Regions from separate parts of the Homo sapiens genome. Here region 1 is linked to region 2. The links come from fine-mapping of genetic effects on gene expression. Tissue or cell type: whole blood. Region 2 holds a variant in brackets; the other region holds the start of a gene. All regions are shown on one strand. Distances are from middle to middle.

Region 1 (8,000 bases), 770 kb before region 2:
TCCATTTTCAATCACACCTTGGAAAACACTAACACAACTGTTTGATAATAACTCTTCATGCTTACCAGAAAGATTTGATGCCTGTGATTGAAAAGAGAGAAGCCCAAATACAATGAAGCCTCAGTTAAGTAGAATTTTTCTTGCTGTTGTTCTCTCTGTATATGTATATAATACTAAAGTATAAGTGCCTTGCTTGCATGTCACAGCACCAAATTATTGTCTTTCAATTAATCATCAGTCATTAGAACTATGCTACTTACCCAGCAGAATCAGCATCACCTAGAGTATGTTAAAAATGCACTGCCTCAGACTGCCCTTGACCTTCTGCATTTAACCAGAACCTGCATTATAACAAGATCCTCGGGTTTGAGAAGCCCTGATCTAGCCGATTTACAAGCCAAGTGTGACTTTTCAGCTCTCTTTTAATTGGCCTATTTTATATATTTTTAAATAAAACAGATGAAAGATTTTAATTACATGAGAAAACAAAGTTTTTAAGGGAAGAGGCACCTTTCAGATTCCCAAATTGCACTGTCTGTAACTGATAATGTTTATGTCAGAAGGCAGTTGGTTGTTATGTGATCTCATTTGCCCTGTGCCTATTTTTTCCACAAAAGAGATCATAGTGCTCTGCAATTGTGTTCATCTGCCATTTTCGATGTAAGTTTCCTGTGGGCAGCATGTCTTTGATATCTAAATCCTCAGTGTCCAGCCTAGTGCCTAACACAAGTAGGTGTTCCAAAAAACTTGAGTGGGAAAAAATAATTGCCATTTATCTGAGTTATAGCCCATTTCAAGTTCAAGCTTAAGGCTCCTCTCTTCTGTAAAAATTAAGTAGTTATTTCATCCATCATGAAAGTAAATACCACTTGTTATTTGACATCTCTCTCTCTCTCTCTCACACACACACACACACACACACACATTTTAGTCATCAACTATTGTTATTTTGTACTCTCTTATTACCCCATCAAAGCTGTAAGAAGCTGTCTTTTTATCTATTTCATATTGCCTTGCAGAGTAAGCATTCAAATGCTTATTACTATTGAGCCATCTTAAAATAAAAACAGATCTTAAAGTGAGAAAATCCACATTCAATTGTCCTTCAAGCACTGTTCTAAATTGCCAAAATTAATTCTAAGAGACGCCAGTATTTAAATAGCTCCTCCAGTTATGACCCATACATCTTAAGGAAAACATATGTTTTGATACAAAAAGTGTTTTATAATTTTGAAATGTTTAGTTTTACATCCACCCAACTCAAGCACTTTACAGATATATGTAATAATCTATAAATTTTGCATTATTTTCCTGATAGTATCATACATAAACCAATAACTCAATTTTAAAGCTAGTTGTAGACCTATTGCCCCAAAGTGCGTCCATAGCATGTAAACCCTTAACTCCTTGAATTAGGACTGTATTAGTGACATCAACGTAGCTGTTGCAATGTTGTGATGAAATCACTATTTTAGCCCTCTTTTAAAATGAACCTTAGCATATTACACAAATCGGCTCTAACTCTCCTATAGATGGCAGCATTGAGCAACAGATTTTGGTAATAGCTTGTTCTTCTGTTCCGTGAATTTTCAGTGGGGAGTAAATTTTTCATACAGTGTATTTCATTACAATACACCAAAAGACTAATTTAGCTTAGGTGACAGAATAATACCCATACCTGCTCAGCATTACTTCAGTGAGTTCCCACAAACGCGTCTCTTTCTATTCTATATATTACATGAACCAAATGTAAATGAATTTCCAGTTAGCCCATTAATAAAACAATTGTAGAGAACAATTGAATTTACTGTAGTATAATTATAACAAATATTAACCACCTTTAAATTGGTAGTAAAACATCAGCAAGTAGAAAAAATGGCACTAATATCCTATGATCAGTGATTATCTTCCATAGGAAACCCATTGGTCTGAACATAATTTGTCACAGCAGTGAGGCTTATTTCATAATTTTTATCGAATATTTAGCAACTGAAATTGTGTTTTTTAAAGCAGAAATGCTTTAACACTGAGAGATATATTTTTTAAAAGGTTTATTATCATAATTAGCTTTTTATGATCAAAATCCTTCCTATGAAGATAATTGTGAGGTACGTGCAAATAAATTTTCCAACCCTCCCCTCCTTCCAGAAAAGAGTATTTTTCCCCCATAGAGGTACAGTACCTTTATTTAGCTTTTTTTGGGGGGTGGGGGGTGGAGGGACGGAGGTAGGGACAGGGCCATTTGAAAAGTAAATGTCCATGGATTTGATTTGTTGTCTTACAAAATGTTAATTACTCCACTACCCCCATCCCAGCGCTAAACATCAAACCTGTGAAAAGCCCTTTGGCCTTATCTGGATTACATTGTTACTAGTAAACAACCCTTTTATAATCTCTCTTTTTTCTTGTCTAGGGTAAAACCAGGCACACAGTTACACTTTTCCACCAACTTCAGGCTTCTTTATTCTGCACCTCCCTGCCCTACCCCCTGTAAGGCACTCTATACCCCCAGAATTTCGGTCACTGTGAGTGCCGCCTCGCTTCCATTTCCAAATATCTGCTATTAATAGCCTTGCTGTAGTGGGCACGTGTGCCCACATCACCAAGCTGTCAGAGGAAAAGAAGGGAGGGCTTTCAATTCAACATGTGTACTCAAATTATAGATTAACCAGGTTTAGATGAGGCTGCATGACGACCGGGAACAGGAAGGGGAGAGGAGAAACGAGAGGCTCCCAGGCTTGGGTGGGGAGGAGCCCCTCTGCAGATGCCCAATCCCCCTAATTTACGTATCGCACACCCCTGAATGGCGCCTATGGTTCTTTTTCTCCTTCATCATCATCATCTTCTTTTTCTTTTTTTACTACGCTTTGCAACCTACCTTGGTACCCTCAACCCTTCTACCCCCACCTTCCCTCTGCAGTGCAAGGCTTGAAAAACAGGCCATCCCACCAATCAGCAGGCCTCCCCGGGAAACTCGCTCCGCCCCTCAGCCGCATTGGGCCGAGGCGCGCTCCCCCGCGGCCCGCCGGGTCCCAGCCACTGAGCATGCCCAGCGCCTCGACTGCTGAGTGCCCAGCCAGCATCCTGCAGTGCCTGGGAGCCTGAGGCCGAGGAGGGTCCCGGCGTAGTAAAGGGGCGGCAACCCCAAACGGGCCAGGCATCAAAATGAGACAGCATTAAACCGAGTGACATCTCTGTGGGTCCTTAGTGCCAGGCGAGCAAGCAGGGACAAACTGCTTGTTTATAGGTCGGCTTAAAAAATAAAAAAACTCTGGGGAGCGTTTGTTTGTGGGGAGACTGATACCGCAAGGTGACCCTGAAAGGGGCGCTTCAAGTAGACCCAGGCTGCTGATCTGGTCCACTCATGAAGTAACCATTTTCCTGTACAGTTGAGCTGGCACCATCCTTGTTTTCTCCCTGTTATCCTTGTGGTCAAGGTTAAAAACTTATAGGGTGGTTCAATGGGTGTGGGAGCTGTGTGTGAAACAAACATTTCAGCCAATATTTGCACAGTAGGGTTTTGGCCTTATGAACCCTCTGAAGGTCCCTAACAGCTTTTTAAAGTCACGGATAGACTTCGGAATATGATAAGGGACCTCTCATTTCCCCTCCCCCATGCCCTCAGCCTTAGGTGTGAGTCCCCCCGTCACACGGATGGGCAAGGGGAGCAGGAGAAAAGGTGATATTTACATTTTCTCCCTACTTGATCAGCAACTAATTCCACAGCGCCGGACGTGAGACACTTCCTGGGGATCCCTGTTCTCCTTTTGTAGTGACCATAACTGCCCCCAGTCACTGCCCTTGGGCGTCCCTCTGTTCCTTCCAGGTACCTCACGGCAGCAAATCTGGGGATCCCAAGGTGGAAGGCTGGCCCAGAAGTCCTTTAGAAAAACCTTAAAAAATACAGATCCCCTCACCATGGCCTATCGCCCTGAAGCCGAAATCTAGCTTTTAAATTTCCTGGGGGAAACAGCCTTGACTAGAAACCTCCCTCCCGTGGGTCAGTCTTACCTGATAGGTAAGAGGCAGCCCAGCTCCGGCGCCCCCGCCTCCCCCCGGCCTCCCACTCGGGGCTCTGTAGCCGCAGTGCCCCCCCGTGGCCCCCCACCCTCACTCCTGCGTCTTCCCGAGCTCGCCCCCTCCCGTTTTCCCAGACTCCCCTCGTGCTTTCGGGTAGCCACCCAAACACCCCCGCCTGCGCCCGCCGCGGGGATTCCTGCGGGCCGGGGGCGCCCCGGTTGGCGCGCGTGTAGGGAGGCGCTGCGCCGGAGCTGGCGGCCGCGCAGGGGCGCTGTCCTAGCGCTGCGCCGGGGTCGGCGCGGGCGCCGCTGCAGCACGGCTGGGGGGCGGAGAGGGGCGGGCGCGGGGCGGGCTCGGCCCGGAATGTAGAGACCCGGGCGGGAGCCTCCCGGCGGCGGCTGCCCGGCTGCCGAGCGCGGAGGCTCCGTCACGTGTTTTTCTCCTCCGAGTGAGACGGCGGCGCGGTCGGAGGGGGCCGGCGCGCAGAGCCAGACGCCGCCGCTTGTTTTGGTTGGGGCTCTCGGCAACTCTCCGAGGAGGAGGAGGAGGAGGGAGGAGGGGAGAAGTAACTGCAGCGGCAGCGCCTCCCGAGGAACAGGCGTCTTCCCCGAACCCTTCCCAAACCTCCCCCATCCCCTCTCGCCCTTGTCCCCTCCCCTCCTCCCCAGCCGCCTGGAGCGAGGGGCAGGGATGAGTCTGTCCCTCCGGCCGGTCCCCAGCTGCAGTGGCTGCCCGGTATCGTTTCGCATGGAAAAGCCACTTTCTCCACCCGCCGAGATGGGCCCGGATGGGGGCTGCAGAGGACGCGCCCGCGGGCGGCGGCAGCAGCAGCAGCAGCAGCAGCAGCAACAGCAACAGCCGCAGCGCCGCGGTCTCTGCGACTGAGCTGGTATTTGGGCGGCTGGTGGCGGCTGGGACGGTTGGGGGGTGGGAGGAGGCGAAGGAGGAGGGAGAACCCCGTGCAACGTTGGGACTTGGCAACCCGCCTCCCCCTGCCCAAGGATATTTAATTTGCCTCGGGAATCGCTGCTTCCAGAGGGGAACTCAGGAGGGAAGGCGCGCGCGCGCGCGCGCTCCTGGAGGGGCACCGCAGGGACCCCCGACTGTCGCCTCCCTGTGCCGGACTCCAGCCGGGGCGACGAGAGATGCATCTTCGCTCCTTCCTGGTGGCGGCGGCGGCTGAGAGGAGACTTGGCTCTCGGAGGATCGGGGCTGCCCTCACCCCGGACGCACTGCCTCCCCGCCGGGCGTGAAGCGCCCGAAAACTCCGGTCGGGCTCTCTCCTGGGCTCAGCAGCTGCGTCCTCCTTCAGCTGCCCCTCCCCGGCGCGGGGGGCGGCGTGGATTTCAGAGTCGGGGTTTCTGCTGCCTCCAGCCCTGTTTGCATGTGCCGGGCCGCGGCGAGGAGCCTCCGCCCCCCACCCGGTTGTTTTTCGGAGCCTCCCTCTGCTCAGCGTTGGTGGTGGCGGTGGCAGCATGGCGAGCCCTCCGGAGAGCGATGGCTTCTCGGACGTGCGCAAGGTGGGCTACCTGCGCAAACCCAAGAGCATGCACAAACGCTTCTTCGTACTGCGCGCGGCCAGCGAGGCTGGGGGCCCGGCGCGCCTCGAGTACTACGAGAACGAGAAGAAGTGGCGGCACAAGTCGAGCGCCCCCAAACGCTCGATCCCCCTTGAGAGCTGCTTCAACATCAACAAGCGGGCTGACTCCAAGAACAAGCACCTGGTGGCTCTCTACACCCGGGACGAGCACTTTGCCATCGCGGCGGACAGCGAGGCCGAGCAAGACAGCTGGTACCAGGCTCTCCTACAGCTGCACAACCGTGCTAAGGGCCACCACGACGGAGCTGCGGCCCTCGGGGCGGGAGGTGGTGGGGGCAGCTGCAGCGGCAGCTCCGGCCTTGGTGAGGCTGGGGAGGACTTGAGCTACGGTGACGTGCCCCCAGGACCCGCATTCAAAGAGGTCTGGCAAGTGATCCTGAAGCCCAAGGGCCTGGGTCAGACAAAGAACCTGATTGGTATCTACCGCCTTTGCCTGACCAGCAAGACCATCAGCTTCGTGAAGCTGAACTCGGAGGCAGCGGCCGTGGTGCTGCAGCTGATGAACATCAGGCGCTGTGGCCACTCGGAAAACTTCTTCTTCATCGAGGTGGGCCGTTCTGCCGTGACGGGGCCCGGGGAGTTCTGGATGCAGGTGGATGACTCTGTGGTGGCCCAGAACATGCACGAGACCATCCTGGAGGCCATGCGGGCCATGAGTGATGAGTTCCGCCCTCGCAGCAAGAGCCAGTCCTCGTCCAACTGCTCTAACCCCATCAGCGTCCCCCTGCGCCGGCACCATCTCAACAATCCCCCGCCCAGCCAGGTGGGGCTGACCCGCCGATCACGCACTGAGAGCATCACCGCCACCTCCCCGGCCAGCATGGTGGGCGGGAAGCCAGGCTCCTTCCGTGTCCGCGCCTCCAGTGACGGCGAAGGCACCATGTCCCGCCCAGCCTCGGTGGACGGCAGCCCTGTGAGTCCCAGCACCAACAGAACCCACGCCCACCGGCATCGGGGCAGCGCCCGGCTGCACCCCCCGCTCAACCACAGCCGCTCCATCCCCATGCCGGCTTCCCGCTGCTCGCCTTCGGCCACCAGCCCGGTCAGTCTGTCGTCCAGTAGCACCAGTGGCCATGGCTCCACCTCGGATTGTCTCTTCCCACGGCGATCTAGTGCTTCGGTGTCTGGTTCCCCCAGCGATGGCGGTTTCATCTCCTCGGATGAGTATGGCTCCAGTCCCTGCGATTTCCGGAGTTCCTTCCGCAGTGTCACTCCGGATTCCCTGGGCCACACCCCACCAGCCCGCGGTGAGGAGGAGCTAAGCAACTATATCTGCATGGGTGGCAAGGGGCCCTCCACCCTGACCGCCCCCAACGGTCACTACATTTTGTCTCGGGGTGGCAATGGCCACCGCTGCACCCCAGGAACAGGCTTGGGCACGAGTCCAGCCTTGGCTGGGGATGAAGCAGCCAGTGCTGCAGATCTGGATAATCGGTTCCGAAAGAGAACTCACTCGGCAGGCACATCCCCTACCATTACCCACCAGAAGACCCCGTCCCAGTCCTCAGTGGCTTCCATTGAGGAGTACACAGAGATGATGCCTGCCTACCCACCAGGAGGTGGCAGTGGAGGCCGACTGCCGGGACACAGGCACTCCGCCTTCGTGCCCACCCGCTCCTACCCAGAGGAGGGTCTGGAAATGCACCCCTTGGAGCGTCGGGGGGGGCACCACCGCCCAGACAGCTCCACCCTCCACACGGATGATGGCTACATGCCCATGTCCCCAGGGGTGGCCCCAGTGCCCAGTGGCCGAAAGGGCAGTGGAGACTATATGCCCATGAGCCCCAAGAGCGTATCTGCCCCACAGCAGATCATCAATCCCATCAGACGCCATCCCCAGAGAGTGGACCCCAATGGCTACATGATGATGTCCCCCAGCGGTGGCTGCTCTCCTGACATTGGAGGTGGCCCCAGCAGCAGCAGCAGCAGCAGCAACGCCGTCCCTTCCGGGACCAGCTATGGAAAGCTGTGGACAAACGGGGTAGGGGGCCACCACTCTCATGTCTTGCCTCACCCCAAACCCCCAGTGGAGAGCAGCGGTGGTAAGCTCTTACCTTGCACAGGTGACTACATGAACATGTCACCAGTGGGGGACTCCAACACCAGCAGCCCCTCCGACTGCTACTACGGCCCTGAGGACCCCCAGCACAAGCCAGTCCTCTCCTACTACTCATTGCCAAGATCCTTTAAGCACACCCAGCGCCCCGGGGAGCCGGAGGAGGGTGCCCGGCATCAGCACCTCCGCCTTTCCACTAGCTCTGGTCGCCTTCTCTATGCTGCAACAGCAGATGATTCTTCCTCTTCCACCAGCAGCGACAGCCTGGGTGGGGGATACTGCGGGGCTAGGCTGGAGCCCAGCCTTCCACATCCCCACCATCAG
Region 2 (8,354 bases):
TTAAAATAAAAACTTTGCTGCTTTGAAAGACACCATCAAGAAAATAACAAACTAACCCACAAACTGAGAGAAAACATTCATAAATCATATATCCAGTACAGGATTTGTGCCCAGAATATAAAAAGGATTCTAACAGGTGAGCAATAAAAACCAAATAACACAACTAAAAAAATGGTGGAAGGTTTTGAATATTTAGATATTTCTCCTTAGAAGATACACAAATGATTAATAAACACAGGTAAAGATGCACGTGATTGAACATAACAAAATGCAAATCAATACCACAATGTGATATTATTTCTCACTCACCAGAATGGCTATAATCAAAAAGACAGACAATAACAAGTGTTACTGTTTGGAGCAATTATAACTTTCATATGCTTTTGGTAAGAATGTAAAATTGTACAGCCACTTTGGAAAACAATTTGGCAGTTTCTGAAAAATGTAAGCATACCATATGATATAGCAATTCCACACTTAGTTAGGTATCTACCAAAAATAAATGAGAACATGTCTGCACAATGACTTATATGTGAATGTTCATTGCAGCATTAATCACCACGCCCAGAAATGGAAACATTTCTGTTCGTCAACTGATGTTCGTCAACTGATGAATCGATAAATAAAGTATGGTATAGCTATACAATGGAAAACTATTTGGCAATTAAAAGGAACAACATGGACGGACCTCAAAAACATTACTTAGGGCTGGGGCAGGAATGGATAGTGATCATAAATAATCACAATCTTTCTTTATAGAGTGATGAAAACATCTTAAAATGAAACTGTAGTAGTGGTGGCATAACGTAAATAATATATGAACCATTGAATTGAACACTTAAAGTAAGTGAATGTTATGGGATATGACTTATATCTCATTAAAACTCTATGTAAGTAAGCTGTTTGTAAGAACAGACAAGAACATTTATATCTTAAATATATAATGAGTAACTCACAGTATATTTCTTCAATTACTATGGGCATTGCCTTGGCAATTGGACATAACTTAAGAATTGGTCTGAACCAAATATTGTTTTCTATGTAAAATTTACAAGTCCCAAGGTCCATCATAGCATTGAATTTACATATCCAAATAAAATTAAATTTTTGGAGGAGACATTGGACTGATACAAGATATGCTGATCTATGCTTTGGATTTGTCAGTAGGTAGAATATTGACCACGTAAATTCAGTCATCTGTAGTTTTTAATAAAGTTTACTTGAAATGTCAAATAGTTTTAATAAAGTGTTTTCAATATAATTCACCAGTTATTAAATTATCAGACTACTATGGAAAGGAATATATTTAAAAGTGTTACTCAACACACATACACACATATCCTAGCCATAAATGTAAAACAAGTTTTCTTTAGCTTGTCAGTGTGCTGTGGATCTGATAGAGAAAAAATCAGCATAGCAAATGAAGATCGTTTGAACTTCATTTGTGTACATGCAGTGCATTCACTGCCTGGCATTTTTCTTTCTTCTTGACAGAAGCTTTACAGAATAAGAAAAAACGTGGCTTCTTATTAGTCTCTGTTTTTCTCCACTGGAACATGTAATGATAATTCTAAAATTCCTGGTCGCGGTTATACGAATACACCTGCACACAGCTTCTGAGATGTGCTTGCTCTCGCCCTGCTCCATCACCTAGCTGCTCGTGATGCAATTCAGGCTATCCTTAGAAGAAAACCCACTAACAGAGACCACCCCTGGGTGGCAAAACCTGGTGACTCCTGTTAGGATTTGTGGTTCTTTCGGACAGAAAAATGCTCCTTAAACTGAAATCCTCTAGTGTTCAACAAATACAGCTGCACCATCATTTTAGTATTCAGGATGCAAAGTAAGTATCTCCCTAAGCACACAAGTCTATTTGAGGAGCACACATGTACTCATAGACACATTTCTACAGTCATGATCCTCTGCTGCTGCCAGTGTCTCAAGCATCATTCCTTTCCTCTCAGGAGACAAGGGGGACCAGAGAGAGGGAGAGCTGAGATTTCATCCTTTCTCAGTCTTGGTATGCAGGCACAGGCACTATAAGAATGTGGTAGGTTGGCTAAAGCTATTTGTTTGCTAGATTTCTCAGAGTTCAATGAGATCATTTTTGTCATTTTCCCTGTGCTCCCCTGTATTTTCCAAAGATCTGCCAGCTTCCAACAACACTCTCTTTCTTCCCATTGGAAATGGAAACGAGTCCTCTGCAGGAATTTTCCACTTAACAGTTCCCCCTTCCCTAGCTGGGGCCTCAGCGCACCAGCCTGTAATGCTGTATTTCTTTCCACTGCAGTTTGACATTTTTGAGCCAGCACAATGAGTTGTATTCAGTCATTCTAAGTCCCCCTCCTTCTACATTATCTTTTTTTCTTTAATAATGCATACTTTCGAGCAATTTCAGAAAGAGAGCAAAGGCTTTTAAGCAACATTACATTTAATTAGTTATGTCACTGTCATCGAATCACCAGAATCCTTTGAGTCATCCCCGCCACCTTTTCCCCCACCCACACACCTCACCCCATAATTTTCCGGTCTCCCAGCCCCCTTCTCTGTCCTTCTGGTAAGTACATTAAAGACAAACCTCATGGTCCATATACTTTGCTTAAAATTGTTTGCCTTTGCAAATCATTTCCTTTAAATAATATTTACAAACTATATATCATTGCCTGACACGATGATAAGAGGGCACATAGATTGCTTATAATCTCAGCTGTAAACAAGAAACGGGGACGTGAGCTTGGAAATGTGTTCCATGCCCTGTCTGGACGCAGCCGCATTTGCAAACGCGCGCAGCTGAGCCGGAGCTGGGTCGCATCCGCAGCCTCTCTCACAAACACTGCAGCCAGAGACCAAAACGCTCAAGTCCAGGGAGTCTGCAGGGCAATCCCAAGTCCCCGAAGGGGGAAGGGAAGCGGAGGCATTGGGGAAGGGGGGTGTGGGTCAGCAAAAGCTTGCATCCAGAGGAAAACAATGCTCGCCTTCCCGAAAGCAAACGGCAGAACCTGCGAACACAGATGCCTGCGGGATCCGGGCTCCCGTGCGGCCGGGGAGAGGGCGGCGGGTGCAGGGGCAGGGCGGAGCCTCCCCTGTCTGGCCGGGTGGTAGCTTCTCAGACAGCGAGGGCCCAGGGGGTCACGCCAGCACAGTGGAGGGTGTCTCAAAAGGAACTGGGATTCTGCAGAGAGGGGAGGAGGGAGGAAGAGGGGGATTTGTTCAAGCTGGGAGGGTGGGCCTCAGGAAAAAAGAAGAAAAAGAAGAAATAGATTAATGCTTTGCAGGACACCTGGGGTATTTCTTTCAGTGGGTATTACTTCCACTTTTAGGCAGGAACAAGAGCTGGGAGGAAAACAGCAGCAAGGGCTGACAGCTCCAAGGTGATCAAAGGGGACTGCGTGAACGGCTTGCTCTGCCAGCCGTTTATTAGAAAGAGAGGGGTGCTCCTGGGCCACGCTGGCGGGGGAGAGGGATTAAGATCAAATAGAAAGAGATCGGCCTGACTCCTTTATGCAGGAGAAAAATGCGCGCATATATATTTATATATTTATATGTTTACATGTATATTTATATTCAAAGAATGCTGTCCACTACAAGATCCACTCCTTCCCATAGCCCCCCACCCCACCCCCCACACACAGGCGCGCGCTCCTCACACATGTAAAGGAAGGAAATT[C/G]CACCCTTTCTTTCCAAATGTTGTTACTTCTGCTTTCTCAGTGCTTGAAATATCACATGATGAATTATCCACTGGGGGACATTTTTATACTGAGGCACCACCCCCCCCCCCCCTTTGGGGAACGCTAACTTTGTGTGAGTCTGATTTACCTCAGAAATAACGTTTAACGCACTCCTGGGATTTGGAAAGAACCTCTCTTTCTATAGATAACAGGGCAAAGTGTTAAAATGCAGGTCACTGGTGCGAGAGATATCCTGTTGTAAAAACGGTGACCTCCAGAAGTTTTGGGAAGGATGGCAGCGGAGCCCTCTACATGTAGAAAGAACACAGATGTTGCTCTCGCAACAAATGCATGAGAATGGTAGGTAGGCAGCTGCCCAGCATATATAATGCAGTTTCTTCCCTTGTGAGATATGATCTTTATACCTAGAGATGCAATAAAGTTATTAAGGGGCCTGAATGGAATGAGAAAGACCTTGTCATATGATAATGACTTTATTTTGTCTAAGCATCAGTTACTCTCTCCTCTCTCTCTCACAAGACTTTTTATCAGCTACAGCTTTACAAGAAAAAAAAAACAGCAGCAACAAGCAAACTAAATTTTACGCAAATTCACAGTTTGAAATCTCCACACCCTAAATCTTACATTTAATCATAAAGTGTTAAATTTTAATGTATTCTTTTAACACAGCACTAGCATTTTGTCAAAGATAGGCATAGCCAGGAAGTTCAGAAGCTTTTCTTACAGTTAGAACAGGTGTGCTTTGTTTTTCCCTTAAGAAGTCTTTAACTTTACTGTTTTCTCCAATATTAGGGAGGTTTTTTAATATCTATTGTTTATTTTTCCAATTATATAAGAAAATATTTTTATCGTAGAATATTTACATAATGTAGGGCTATACACATTAAACAATGAAAATCTTTTATGAAGTCCCACTTTCCCAAATGATTCCCTTCCCCAGAAGTAAATTCATACTTCCCCACAATAGTATTCATCCAACCCTTATAAAATCCATCCAGCCCTTGTAAATATTTTTATATGCATAGATGTATATATGCAATCATATAAATTTTAGAAACCTACAAATTCACTCATACTATATGTTTTATTCTGTGAAGTGATTTTGTTCACTTACTACACCAAAGAGATCTTTTTTAAAAAATCAAGACCTATAAATCTATCTCATTTTTGACGGGTGCATAACGTTTCAGGATTTATTATTACATTATTGATACATAATGAGGGTATTTCCAGCTTTTTGTTATTATAAATAATACTGAAACTGACATTCTTAGGTATACATCTTTGACCATACATGCTAGTAATTTTATAGGCTAGATTGTACTGAAATCCATAAGTGAAAGGATATATGCATTTTAAATTTATGGATACTACCAAAGTTCTCTCACAAAGAGCAAAAACGATTTATATTCCACCAAGTTGTCTGTGACTAGACTATTGTTTTGCACAGTCTCTCAATCACTATTTGTTATCAATTAAAAAATGTTTTGTCAATATTTTGTAAAAAAAAAAAAACTTGTTTTCTCACTTGCCTTTTTAAATTACTACTGAGGTTGAACAAGTCTTACCTACACTGGACATTTGTGTTGTTTGTTTGTTTGTTCTGAGTTGCCTGTTTACGTATTTGCCCCATTTTTTCTTTGGATCTTTCTTTTTCTTCATGATTCTAAGAAATTCTTTACCTATAATGAACACCTTTGTTTCTTTTGCTTAGTGTAAATGTTTCTCTTAGCCTGTTGTTTATCTTTTAACTTGGAATGTGGAAACTTCATCATAGGGACATTTGAATTTTTGTGTAGCCAAATCTGTCAGCAATTTCTTTTATAGACTCCAGGTTGTGTCCTGATTAAAATTTAATAGAGAACATGTACTTATATCTTATATTCCAGATGGCAGATTAGCTGTCTAAAACTGTTTCTATTTCTTTAAGACCATTCTACATTAAAATAAGTGTACACTGTATCAATTAATCAGTAGGGAACTACATTCATTTGTTCTCTTTACCAAAACACTGAGGACATCTTCCCCTGTAGTAAACTAAGACTTTGCCTGTAGATAAACCCCAAAAATGTCTGTGGATTGTGGAGGGAACGAAAAGCATCAAAATAATGGCTTATTAAATGAATTAACCACAGAAATAGAAGACCAAATACTGCATGAGGGAGCTAAACATTGGGTACATATGGACAAAAGGATAGGAACAATAGACACGAGACTACTAAATGAGGGAGATGGGGGCAGGGAGGTAAGGGCTGAAAAACTACTTATTGTATACTACGCTCACTACCTGGGTGACAGAATTATTTGTACCCCAAACTTCAGCATCACACAATATACCCATGTAAAAAACCTGCACATGAACCCCCTGAATCTAAAATAAAAGTTTAAATTATTTTTAAAAAAGAAAAACAGCTTATTAAATAAAAGTCATCAGAACTCCTGGTTCCATTGGTTTTTAGAAACATGAATATACTCAAGATTGATTTTTTCAAAGGAATCTATGACATAGCCACTCTCAAAAGTTATAAATGTTGGCATCATTCTTCTCTCTCCTAAAGTAGTGACACACATCCTCTCTATAAAACTAGACACAAGGTGTCATTTGATGGAATAGGTAAGTGTTAACAACATGGCTTGCTACCTACCAGGCCTATGGCAGAAATGACCACAGAAACTATTCCCTGGGGAAATTTTTTTAAAATGAAGATTCCTAGCACCATCCCAGACATTCTGAAGAATAGTCTCAGGAATGGAGTGATATGTTTTGGCTGTGTCCCCATTCAAATCTCATCTTGAATTGTAGTTCTGCAATCCTCATGTGTCAAGTGGGGGGCCAGGTGGAGATAACTGAATCATAGGGGCAGTTTCCCCCATACTGTTCTCCAGGTAGTGAATAAGTCTCACGAGAGCTAATGGTTTCATAAAGGGGAGTTCCCCTGCACTAGCTCTCTTGTCTGCCACCATGCAAGATGAACCTTTGCTCCTCATTCGCCTTCTGACATGATTGTGAGGCCTCCCCAGCCATGTGGAACTGTGAGTCAATTAAACCTCTTTCTGTTATAAGTTACCCAGTCTCAGGTAGGCCTTTATTAGCAGCGTGAGAACAGACTAATACATGGGGGCTCTGAGATTTATAGTATTGGGCACTTGCTCATAGAGTAGCACTGGAAACCAACTTCTCCAGTTTATTTAGAACATGTAGTATTCTTTGGTTTCTCTTTGGCATGTTCTCTCTCCCCTCCTTACATAAAATAGATGAATGCATCTTATTGATTTTGCTTCTGAAGTGTCTTTCAATTCATATTATCCTTCCCATTCTATCTACTACTCTCCTATTTTAGGCCTCCATAGTCTCCTTATGAAAAACGGTCTCCTAACTTATTTTCTCAGTCTTTGTTGTTCCTCATCTTGGTATTTTCCAAAGCTTCTTGGCAGATTTATTCATGCTACCAGTACGTGAAAACCTACATCTGAATAGCCACACTCTTTTCACTCATTGAGTAACTTTGTGATTTTTATCTCAGCTGACTTTTCCATATCATCAACATCTATGCTGACCTCCTTTTTCTCCTCGAATTTGTCAGTGCCATGTCACGGCTCAAGCCCTCCGTATTAGTCTGTTCTCACACTGCTATTATAGCAAAGGCATACCCAAGACTTGGGCATTTATAAAGAAAAGAGGATTAATTGACTATTGACTCACAGTTCAGCATGGCTGGGTAGGCCGCAGGAAACCTACAATCATGGTGGAAGGGGAAGCAAACACATCCTTCTTCACATGGTGGCAGAAGAGAGAAGAACCAGTGCTCAGCAAAGGGGGAAGGACCTCATATAACCATCAGATCTCATGATAACTCACTCACTATCATAAGAACAAGATGGGGGAAACCACCCCCATGATTCAATTATCTCCACCTGGTCCTTCCCATAACATGTGGGGATTATGGAACTACAATTCAAGATAAAATTTGGATGGGGACACAGCCAAACCACATCACCCTCCATTTTACTTACCTGCTGTGAAGCCACTGTCATGTTTTTCTCTAGTGACTAACATGCCGTTCCCTTCATTATGGCTCTGACTTTTCAAGATTCAAGTCAAATGCTCTTTCTTCTGTAAATTTCTTCTGCTAATTTGCCCTTCCCTCTTCTGACAGTCTCATATTTTGAATTACTTTCTATTCTGTTATCATTATCAAAGACTCTATTACTGTCTTACATTGTTGTCTCCCACAGTAGGTTGTAAATTCCTCAAAAACAAGATCATTTCTAATTGAACATTTGGGTCATAATACCTAATAGTGTCTGTTACAAATGGTGGAAATGAAATAGATAACTTGAATATATCCAAACAGTCTATCTGAATGGTAACAAAGACTATGCTGTGTGATTCTTGGTTCCTATCACAGAAAGTCTAGAAATAGTTAAAACCAAGATTTTGATTCCATCTGTGTCAAGAATTATAAATAAGTAAGACTTACCAAAATAACAGCATGTCTACTGCTAAACAGCCAAACAAGATGAAGAAATAAATATATATATCCTCTAGAATTACGGAGACAAAATGATGGAATAAGTCAATTCTATTAAAGCTGACTTTTGTCATTTTTAATGTTATGATATTTAAATAATTCACTCTAATATTTCATTGAATGGAATTATATT

What was found. PIP is the estimated chance that this variant, and not a neighbour inherited with it, causes the effect.
Region 1: it holds the start of IRS1, and the variant in region 2 is fine-mapped to the expression of IRS1 in whole blood (INTERVAL, PIP 0.99). The same link has a PIP of 0.9 or more in monocytes, monocytes after Pam3CSK4 and monocytes after R848.

What each region holds. Positions count from the first base shown.
Region 1 is chr2:226,796,234-226,804,233 of GRCh38, reverse strand. It overlaps IRS1 (insulin receptor substrate 1), which reads left to right and starts at 4,414. Exons shown (of 2, transcript NM_005544.3): 1 at 4,414-8,000. The coding sequence starts at 5,496. It also overlaps a transcript of RHBDD1 not described here. RefSeq lists silencers at 2,876-3,085, 4,046-4,115, 4,136-4,555, 5,546-5,595 and an enhancer at 6,326-7,275.
Region 2 is chr2:226,025,920-226,034,273 of GRCh38, reverse strand. No RefSeq gene overlaps it. Among named protein-coding and RNA genes, the nearest start is that of MIR5702, 630 kb to the left of the region's middle. The variant C/G (reference allele first, on the strand shown) is at 3,668.